Linked DNA regions of Homo sapiens. The protein of the gene in region 1 purifies or fractionates together with the protein of each later gene. This does not show direct contact. Each region holds a gene or a part of one and is shown in the gene's direction. Other genes may lie near its edges. The genes, in order: FABP3, OLFM4 and LYPLAL1.

Evidence for each region.
Region 2: the proteins of FABP3 (region 1) and OLFM4 purify together in Homo sapiens (co-immunoprecipitation; one large-scale study listed by IntAct). This does not show direct contact.
Region 3: the proteins of FABP3 (region 1) and LYPLAL1 fractionate together in Homo sapiens (co-fractionation; one large-scale study listed by BioGRID). This does not show direct contact.

What each region holds. Positions count from the first base shown.
Region 1 is NC_000001.11:31,367,322-31,370,144, reverse strand, and holds part of FABP3 (fatty acid-binding protein, heart), read left to right. Parts: intron 1-554; coding exon of another isoform or gene 555-587; coding exon 588-760; intron 761-2,650; coding exon 2,651-2,752; intron 2,753-2,823. UniProt on the Homo sapiens protein: FABPs are thought to play a role in the intracellular transport of long-chain fatty acids and their acyl-CoA esters.
Region 2 is NC_000013.11:53,045,724-53,049,256, forward strand, and holds part of OLFM4 (olfactomedin-4 precursor), read left to right. Parts: intron 1-3,533. UniProt on the Homo sapiens protein: May promote proliferation of pancreatic cancer cells by favoring the transition from the S to G2/M phase. In myeloid leukemic cell lines, inhibits cell growth and induces cell differentiation and apoptosis.
Region 3 is NC_000001.11:219,190,776-219,194,436, forward strand, and holds part of LYPLAL1 (lysophospholipase-like protein 1), read left to right. Parts: intron 1-2,306; coding exon 2,307-2,476; intron 2,477-3,661.

The sequences.
Region 1 (2,823 bases):
AAAAGCTCATAGTACTTAATAGTAGCTTTTTTTTTTTTTTTGAGGTGGAATCTCACTCTGTTGGCTAGGCTGGAGTGCAGTGGCACAATCTCGACTCACTGCAACCTCCACCTCCTAGGTTCAAGCAATTCTCAGCCTCAGCCTCCTGAGTAGCTGGGATTACAGGCACATACCACCACATCTGGCTAATTTTTTGTATTTTTAGTAGAGACGGGTTTCACCATATTGGCCAGGCTGGTCTTAAACTCCTGGCCTCATGTGATCCGCCTGCCTTGGCCTCCCAAAGTGTGATTACAGGCGTGAGCCACCACACTTGGCCCAATAGTAGCTTATTCTAATCCCAGCTCTGCCACTGACTTGCTATGGCACTGCTGTTCCTTAAGTATCTCTCATCTAATGGGATCAGTTATCTGTGTTCACCAAACAGAACTAAGCGCAAGACTGAATTTTAAAATTCCCATGCAAAGGCTTTGAAAGATACAGTCCTCCACTTCCCCATACCCAGGCCTGAGAGTTATTCATTGAGTTTCTTGTACACTGCTTCTCTACCCCAGCTCATATACTCATAACCTTCCCCCTACCCTCAGGTGTGGGTTTTGCTACCAGGCAGGTGGCCAGCATGACCAAGCCTACCACAATCATCGAAAAGAATGGGGACATTCTCACCCTAAAAACACACAGCACCTTCAAGAACACAGAGATCAGCTTTAAGTTGGGGGTGGAGTTCGATGAGACAACAGCAGATGACAGGAAGGTCAAGGTAAGTCAGGGAAACAGGGGTGGGGAATGGAGAGTGCTGAGACTCTAAAAGAGAATAGGCTGGTAGTCTTGGCTCCCTGGTATTGCACCCTGAGGGGCAGACTATCATGGGGAATTTAAATGAAACAAGATTCATAAAGCCTGTGTAGTGCTGGAATGCCACTGATGCTAAATACATGTCAGTTCTGTCCTCTTGTTTTCTTCCCTCCCTTCTTGGGATTCATCTATTGTCTGCCTCGGAATGGGCAGCACAGAGCCAGGATGTTCTTCTGACCTCAGTATCTACTCCAGCTCCAGCTGGGTGACCCTGTGCAAGGTATGCAGTAGCTCTAGGTTTCTTTCCCCTTCCATAGATGGCAGAGTTATGTGGCCATGGCTGTGACCTGAAGTGCTTTAGGAATGATGCCCAGAAGTCAGGGCCCTCCACTGAGTGAGGTCATTGTGACCTCCAGCAGCAAAAAAGGCAGCCAGGAACTAGAAGCACCTACTCAGATGCCGCTTCAACTTCTAACTCCCAGACATGGCCAATGACCCTGACAAACTATTTCCAGTGTTGCCAGCTGACAGGCAGGAAGAGCTATGTTCCGTGATAGGGCATTCACCTTGTCATGAATGTGTTTGCAGTGTCTTCCCACCAAGCCTTAGCCCCTCCTCCCAGGGTTCTATCACCCTGCAGTGGCTGTCTTGGCAGCTTGCCTCAGCCTTCCAGGCCAGGCATGGGAGCGAGAGAACTTAAGGGCTTTGACCTCTATAGGGTGTCCCTATAGCAGTGTTCTATCATGACACTATCATTCAGCCCCATCAGCTGTTTCCTCTTCCTCATAGCTGTCCCCAGAAAGAACAGGATCACACAGGTGGCTGGCAGCAGAGCTGGGGATGGTGCCCAAAGATGGCAGTCTACCTTGGATAAAGGTGGCTGCCCCACCACCTGCTCATACCTCCTTGGACTTGCCTACTTTCTCAAGGGGCAAGAACCCCAATTAAACACAATAGCCCTGTGGAATGCCTAGGGCAAAAATATCTACTCTGAGTAGGCAAAAAAAACTAGGGGAATGAGAACAAGGAGTAAGGTAAGGATAAAAAAGAGCACACTAAGAGACAGGCCTCATACCCCTTATCACCTAAACAATACACAGAACCTTCTCAGATTCTCCTACTGAACCACCTTGCTCATCAGGATCCCTTAGCCTGGCCTTGTGGCCCCCAAACTCCTAGGAAAGAGAGCTGGAAGAGCTGCCAAATGAGAACCAGCTGATGTATGTATGCTGGCAGCACCCAGAGCTGAGGAACCACTTCAAGGGCATCCAGTCACAGGACTTTGTGGTTGCTGCCCTCTTGTTGGCTAAAGAGGTCACATGATGTGGACCAAGAAAAGGTGTAGGAATACAGGGCAGGAAGTCTAATTATCCAATACTTCCTATCACTAAGGGTCTTTTAGACATTATGTGGACTAACCACAAGGCTGGATAAAGATTCTCAGGACTACTCCTCCTCCTCAGTCAGTCTTTCCCAGGGATAGACTAGTAAATCCCACCTGTATCTGAGGGGACCAGGCTACGGGAATCACCTAGAGTACAGATAAGTGTCTGTCTTGAAGGCTTGTGGTACTTCTCAGAGCCAGGCTCTCTGGCTCCACCATACTGCCTGCCTCTCCCTCCTTGCCTAATATCTGAAGGCCTCTTCCCCAGAAAGGCAGTAGTGGAGCAGAGGCTGGAGGTGAACTAGATGTCTTGCAGGGATAGCTGGGAGGCGGATTGCCTGAGCTCTTGTCCTCACACCATCACTAGTTTGGGTCAAAGGCTGTGTGCTCTGTGGCCCAGTGTCCAGACCCCACCCTGCCCCTCAATTCCTGACTAAGATCACAGCTCAGGCCTCTACCCTCTTTCCACAGTCCATTGTGACACTGGATGGAGGGAAACTTGTTCACCTGCAGAAATGGGACGGGCAAGAGACCACACTTGTGCGGGAGCTAATTGATGGAAAACTCATCCTGGTAAGATGGGCAACTTTGGAGCTATATCTGATTGGTTATTACTACTGCTCTTTCAGCCAAGCCTGTTCTAA
Region 2 (3,533 bases), on another chromosome or scaffold:
ACTTAGAACAAGTGAATGTATCCCAGGTTCAATAAAATATGCTTCCTATTTGGTTTTTGCTACAAACAACGTCCTTTTTCTGCCTCATTTCATAGAACTTTCTAATCTAAAATAATTGGCCTTCTACTCATTAACTTTTTTCCCTTAAAACTTCAGTCTGTCTCTGTTTTGCCTGTGAATCTAAATGACTGTATATAGGCCAAATGTGATCGGGTGCTCAGGGGTTGATCTCCAGTTTGCTTGGGGATGCAAGGTTCTGTGCTGGTCCATAGTGATGCTCAGTAAGTAGCTGATGATTAAATGGGGTCTGAAAGAAATGGGGTGACCTGCTAAAATCTCAAGCTTAGGGAAGAGCCACATGTTGAACAGCATATATCCAACACTTCAGAGTCAATTTAGTCTTAATCATTTTATGACTATGATTGTTTTAATTGCCTAATTCTTATAAGTCAATCATATTCTCCTCCTGGCTCAAACAAAGTTCAGTTGCCCAGTTGAGAGAGTGCATTAATAGATCCAAGACTAATTTTCCTCTGTAGGCATATAATTATTGGCTTCAAAAAAATGCTACTAACCATGATACTTTTAAAAAGCCAAGTCAGAATATTTTAAATTCTCATGATTATGGCTTCCTCAGGTATTTTCAGAGTACCATGGTGCCATCTAATGAATTGCATGATGAAGAGAGTGCCAACCAAGGCTAAACTTCTATAGAGGGTTCCTCAAATTATGTTCCATGGAGTAAATGCCAGGCTTTTTGAAAAACCAGATATGTAGCAGGGTAGAAGGCTAGTGTTTTATAAATAAGGGTAAGCTGAGTTTAGGTGACTTGATTAATCTTTCATTCCTTTATTCCACAAACATAATTTGGTGCCACTGTGTGGCTGGCCCTGTTCTGGGTACTGGGGTTACCAGCATGAGTAAAGAAACCTCCAGAAGCCACTATCTAGGAAATGAGACATCTAAACCTCCAGTTGTAACATGATGTGATTATATTGAGATATTTACCATTTACTGAGTAACATTTACATGTCTTCTCTGTATTTTTCGTAACTATTTTGCAGAGTTGGTATTATTTTTCTTCTGACATGAGGAAACTGAGGCTCAGAAGGTTAAGTAACTTGCTCAAGGATACACAACTACTGTTGGAATCAGGCTTTGAATTAGAATCTGTCTAGTAGTATTTTCCATACTAGGCTGCCTTCCATAGCTGCTCTAACAGAGAGGTGCACCTGTGATTTCTGGAGTGAAAAGAAAATTCCAACAACTCACCTATCTGCTTAACACCAAATTATTTTTGCTTCCTTGGTAGTGGAGTAGGTAAAAGGGTACTGTTGCTCCTGACAGTTCTGTGCTGTGTGTTCTCTTCCACCAGAAAATGCAAAATGATTCAATGGTCTTTCAGAATTCTTGGATCATGATTGGGCAATGGGCTGTTGCCCAAGTGTCAGGGTGAAATTGGGATGGAAACTGGGTATGAAGTATGGAATGAAGTATGTCTAAGACCTTGACATGAAGGAAGGGGCTGGCAAGGAGCATGAGATAAGGGAGGGTGGTGAGAAGCTCAGTGAAGATGGGATGGGGGGATGGGGACTCTGAGGAACAGTGGGCACTGGACTGGCTGTCAGTTTCAGTATCGTGTCCAAGATGGTTTGCTGCCAGGAGTCGAGGAAGCCCGCCATAGCATTTTTCCTGGTCTGACATTGTTGTGGCCACATTTGTAGCATTGGCAGCAATGTTGAGTTCTCATCCCCATTTCCACTTCCTTTCTACCACAGCCGGGGCCCTAAAAATAGCCCTTTATCCTTACCCATAGAGGATAAAAGGAGGATAACAAATGAACAGGAAAGTGTTTAGGAATGTTTGGGAGGTGAGAAAAACAAAGTTTCATACATTTTAATATTTACACTGGGCAATTTGAATTTTCTGGTCAACTTATGAAATGATGAGCCACTATTACTATTAGTAGTAGTAACAATAGTAATAGTACTAATACTATTATACTAATAATAATGCAATTAGTTTTATGATAATAGCAGTAGTAATAGTAATTTTTTGAGAAGTTTATTTTGGTTCCTTCATGTCTAAAAATTTCCACATCTGGGGACAGAATAGTTTAACCTCTTGGTAGTGCTTGAATAAGTTATATGCATCATCAATTTTCCTTAAATATTTTGTTGCTGTCGGTTTGGGATATTTTCTTTTCAGGAAGGCAAGACTCAATGAAGCAAACAATTATTGTCTTCCAACCTGAAAGAAAAAAAAGTGACTTTCCTCAGAGTGAAATGTAGTTAAATAAATAAGTTCTCAGGAAGATACTTTAGCTAGAAAATCCAGTTTGTAGCATATGGAAACTTGAACAGTTTTTGTTATCATTAAACTGAACACACCGCTAACTTTATTTTAATAATTCATGCATTGTTTCATAAACAAAAGCAAACAAGCATTCATCTGAGAGATCACTTTTAGTAGAAGAAATAATAATTTATAATTTTATTTATTATTTCTTCAGTGGAGAATAGTCTCTTGGCTGAAAACACGTTGCTTTTTTATTTATGAAATGGCACATGCATTATTAAAATAAACCTGTGACTGTGTTCTGCTTAATGATATGCAAAATTATTTGAGGTTGGATACAGAGTGGTTTCATTTCTCTACCTGTTGTATGGTTGGCTGGCTTTCTCACCAACTGTGGATTTATGAGAGCATTTAAGGAGCATATATTTAATTCTGGGACCAAAAAGCCCCAGCCGATTGGAAAAATAAAAACAGAATTTCTAGTAATGGTTTCACCTTTGAGCAGTCCTTGGGTGAGGAGGATGGGGAGGGAAAGCATTTAGCAAGGAAAGGAATGGGTCTTTCCATATTGGACACAGCAGAGACCCAGAGACAAAGGCTTTGCTCCCCCTTCCCCGCCTCCATGCTAATCTCAGGCAATTCTTTGGAGCTCTGCTTTTGGCTCCAGCTCACCTCATGTTCCTCAATGGCTCTCTGAGTCCCTGCAAGTATTTCAGGCCAAATCCAACAATTCAGGTTCTGCTCCTTTCCTGTCTCACCTGCTCTGCTCTGAGCAGCAGGACGAGGGAAAATGACCTCAAATATACTTGAAGTTGGGTTTTCTTTGTTATCCAATAAACCATCTCATGAGTTTTTTTGAGTGTTAAGATCCCAGAAAATGTGTGTTCAACTCTTTGGATAGTTATTATAAAAATACTGGAGGAACTTTATTTTATTTTTATAGCTCATAAACTCCTGGGATGGCAGGCATTTCAGCGGGAGTACAATGTGAAGGGTTGATCGCCCAGACTGAGTTATTTACCCAAGTGTTACAGGGAATGTAGATTCAGTGGACCAGTGAATCTTGTCCCACTTGATTGTACACATTGTGACAATGACAGTGTCTGGATGGAAAGATGAAATACTTGCATGTCATTCTATGGCACAATAGCATATGGGTTATGAACAGCAGGACTCACCATGTAACTCTGCAGCAGGACGGTCAGCAAGTGATTTATTGATGGGCTGTGCATTGG
Region 3 (3,661 bases), about 190 Mb from region 1:
TAGGAAAAAATAATAGCAAATGACATCAGTCAGCAATTCCACTTATGTGGAGTTTTAGAACAGGCAAAAGAAATCAATGTTGATAGTCTCACTCAGTAGTTGCTTGGGAAGGTTACGGGAGTTGCTCGTGAAGGGGCATGATGGAATTTTCCAAGGAAAAGGAATGTTCTGTATCATTGTGGAGATGGTGGTTGCATTGTAAAAAGTAATTGAACTATACACCTAAAATGTGTGTAGTTCAATATAGTTTATATATGTAAATTATACCTCAATAAAGTTGGTTTTAAAACTTCAATTGATACTCTTAAATGGTAACATTTTAATGTATGTCAGCACCTACTGCTATTACTGCTGTGGGCAAAAGGATATTTTCCTACCTTTCCTGTAGAAAGGTAAATTTTTACAACTTTTATGGAAGCAACTTTGAGACATCTATTAAGACAAAAATTGTACCTTTTAATCCAACCTGTTTCTTGACTCTTTTCCATAGGAATAAAAGTTCCAGTAGATAAAAACACGTATGCATATGTTTAATGAAGCATATTTCTTAGTGGCTAAAAGCTGGGTACCAAATTAATTCCCATTATTAGGGGAATGGCTGATTAAATTGCAGAATATGCTTATCATAGGATATAATATAGCCATTAAAAGGGTAAGTTAGAACTGTAACTGATGAAAGGATTTCCATGAGATATTGTTGAAGGAAAAAAGCATGATGCACATAATAGAATCAGATAGACTACTTTATTTTTGAAAAGAAATAGTGTGCCAAGAAATAGCCTGTAAATATGCATATTTTAATTTATAAGAATAACATTGAAGGATATATTTCAGATCATTTACACAGTTTACCGAATGTAAAGGACAAGATGTGTGAGGGAGTTGGAGAGAAGAGGAGGAATGTAGAGATGGGTAAAAAATGAATAAGATTGACATGAAAAACATCTAAACAATGTATATATATATAATCTCATATTTAAAAAATTTTATGTATCTGCATAAACTTAGGGAAAACATTTAAGTTTTTATGTACTGACTTTCAGAGGTATTCATCATATCCATTTAAATTTTAGAAAATGTGTTACAAAGTAATGTTTATATGATTCTATTTGAGTAAATAAAAGATCCCCGTATATGAATTTTTGTTAAATTTTAGTCAGTTCAACTTTCTTGTTTCCAGGTTTTTTTTTTAGTTTCTCTGAGAAACTTTCCAAATATAACCTTGACGTTCAAGCCCCTTAAGTGGATGTCCATTTATTTTGGGGTGGTATGATCAATATTGAAAAATGGTGTAATTTTGTTCCCTTCCAGCACCACCCACTGGTCCTAAAGATTGTATGCATCCCAAGGCCAATGACAATTGAATATTTCTAGCTCCTTGAATATGCTGAGGTTCTACTTGGGTTTTTCACTAGAGAAGAAGTACAAAAGCATGTTCAGGTCTCACCTGTTGTCTTTTAGCCGTCTATTTTTGTTTTTCAATTTAGCTGCACATTTCATGCTTTTACTTTACTAACTTTGGTGGGTGACAGTATACAGCTAAATTTGAGATGGCAAAGTAGAGGAGGTATTGGTGTGGAAAGAATCCTGTGTCTGGGTTCATCAAAGGGAAATATTACTTGTCATTGGTTTAGAGTTCTTTCAAATTACTATAGGCACTTTTGTCACTGGCTATGTTTTCTTTGCCACTCTGTTTCTCATCATTACGTGAGGAGAAAGCAGGGCATGCCAAGGGATAAGGATTATCTTCTGTGCAACTCTTCCGTTTTTCATATTTGGAAAACATTTGTTCTCTGTGTTTATCTAATATAGCCCCCATCCCTCTCTGTGTTTGCCCACAGAAATCTCTAAGGTTTTTTTTTGTTCCCCTTTCATTTACATCTACCAACATAATACTTGAATACAGGACCCCCTTTACTCCATTACAGTTTGGAATATCTTGATGGTGTGTGTGCCTGTGCACGTATGTGTGTGTATTTTTTTTAACCAACATAGTATCCCAGAGCATGAATATACAATGAATGGATTAAGATTCACTGGTACTGTAACTGTTCTCCCTCTTAAAAGATGGAGGGAGTAGGTAAAGAGGATATGAACTGGCATTAGTAGATTTTAATGGATTAGATACAAGTATGGGATAGTTAATACAATATACATGAGAGTAGTTTTAATATGCATTTAACTTATAAAACTTAGAAGAAATTGAAATCATTTATTCAAAACACTATTATTTTGGTAATTAAAGCATCCATTTTCATATTCCCTTTTCCTTTCTTTTTTTTTGGGGGGGGGCGGTTGTTAAACAGATCATATACTCCTATGAAAGGAGGAATCTCCAATGTATGGTTTGACAGATTTAAAATAACCAATGACTGCCCAGAACACCTTGAATCAATTGATGTCATGTGTCAAGTGCTTACTGATTTGATTGATGAAGAAGTAAAAAGTGGCATCAAGAAGAACAGGATATTAATAGGTAAGACCTTTAAATGTTGGTAATTTATCACTGTTCACTTTTGTCTAATTCTATACATCAAATCTTACTTGGAACATTATTTAGAAGCACTTGTATATCATTCGATGCATTCATAGTTTCAGATAAACTTTACATATTGAGGATTTCAAAGATATTAGAATTATAAACAGCAGCGCATGAAACTTTAATTGATTTTCTTTTTGAATAATAACGGATTTTGAGACTCTTGTGGCAGTTAAAATTTTTCTTCTAGTTTAATTTTCAGTTAAGAAATTATTCATTTCAATTTTTAAAACATTTTACTTCAGTTACCTTAACTCTTATGAATATAAGTTTAAACATCTATTGCCATTAAGATATACAGTCAAAATATACCACTACATTTATGAAAATTATAATCTTCAGAGTTAATCTCACAAGAATATTTGTAAATTTTTGTTAGACTGTCTTTAGCAAGCCCTGTTCCTAAGGGAATATAAGTAGCTTTATATAAGCTCTTTATTCTGCTTAATACCTTTTTCTGTTTCTGGACTTAGCATATACATAAATTATTAAAATCTTTTTCTAATACATGCAAAAGTGAGATGGGGCATGTAGAATATGAATGGTACACGACATATTTTGGTGAAAGGGTTTTATTTCCAAATGTAACTATTTAACTTACAATGAGTTGTATTTAATGATGAAATTAAAAAGCAAATTAAGTATCCCCATTATGTTCTAAATAACATTAAAATGCACATTGAAATTCTTTATAGATGGGATTTGGGTAAACTAATAAACTTTCTTTGTGTTTATTGAAGTGCTGAACTGTCTGTTGAGTCATGAGAGACAACATGATATAATGGATAAAATCCATTCTATTCTGTCTTGGCGTTAGTTTCCACTTTGTTGAAAGCAGCGTGGCCTCTAGCATAACAACATCACCTTTCTGGTCCTTAGTTTCCTCATTATGTTTAACTCTATATTTCTGTGTTTCCATGTTTAACGTTGATGTTTAACTCTAATAGAGATAAACATGGAGCATTATGGGAGGACTAGGAAGAGTGTAGGGAAGGGATTCCCAACTTAGTCTAGGGGATTATGAAGTAGTTAGAAGATAGAATTCCAAACATGTGAATCATGTATCATTCAGTCATCATTCAATCTTTAGCAAGTATTTTTTAAGTCCCCACTATGTGCTAC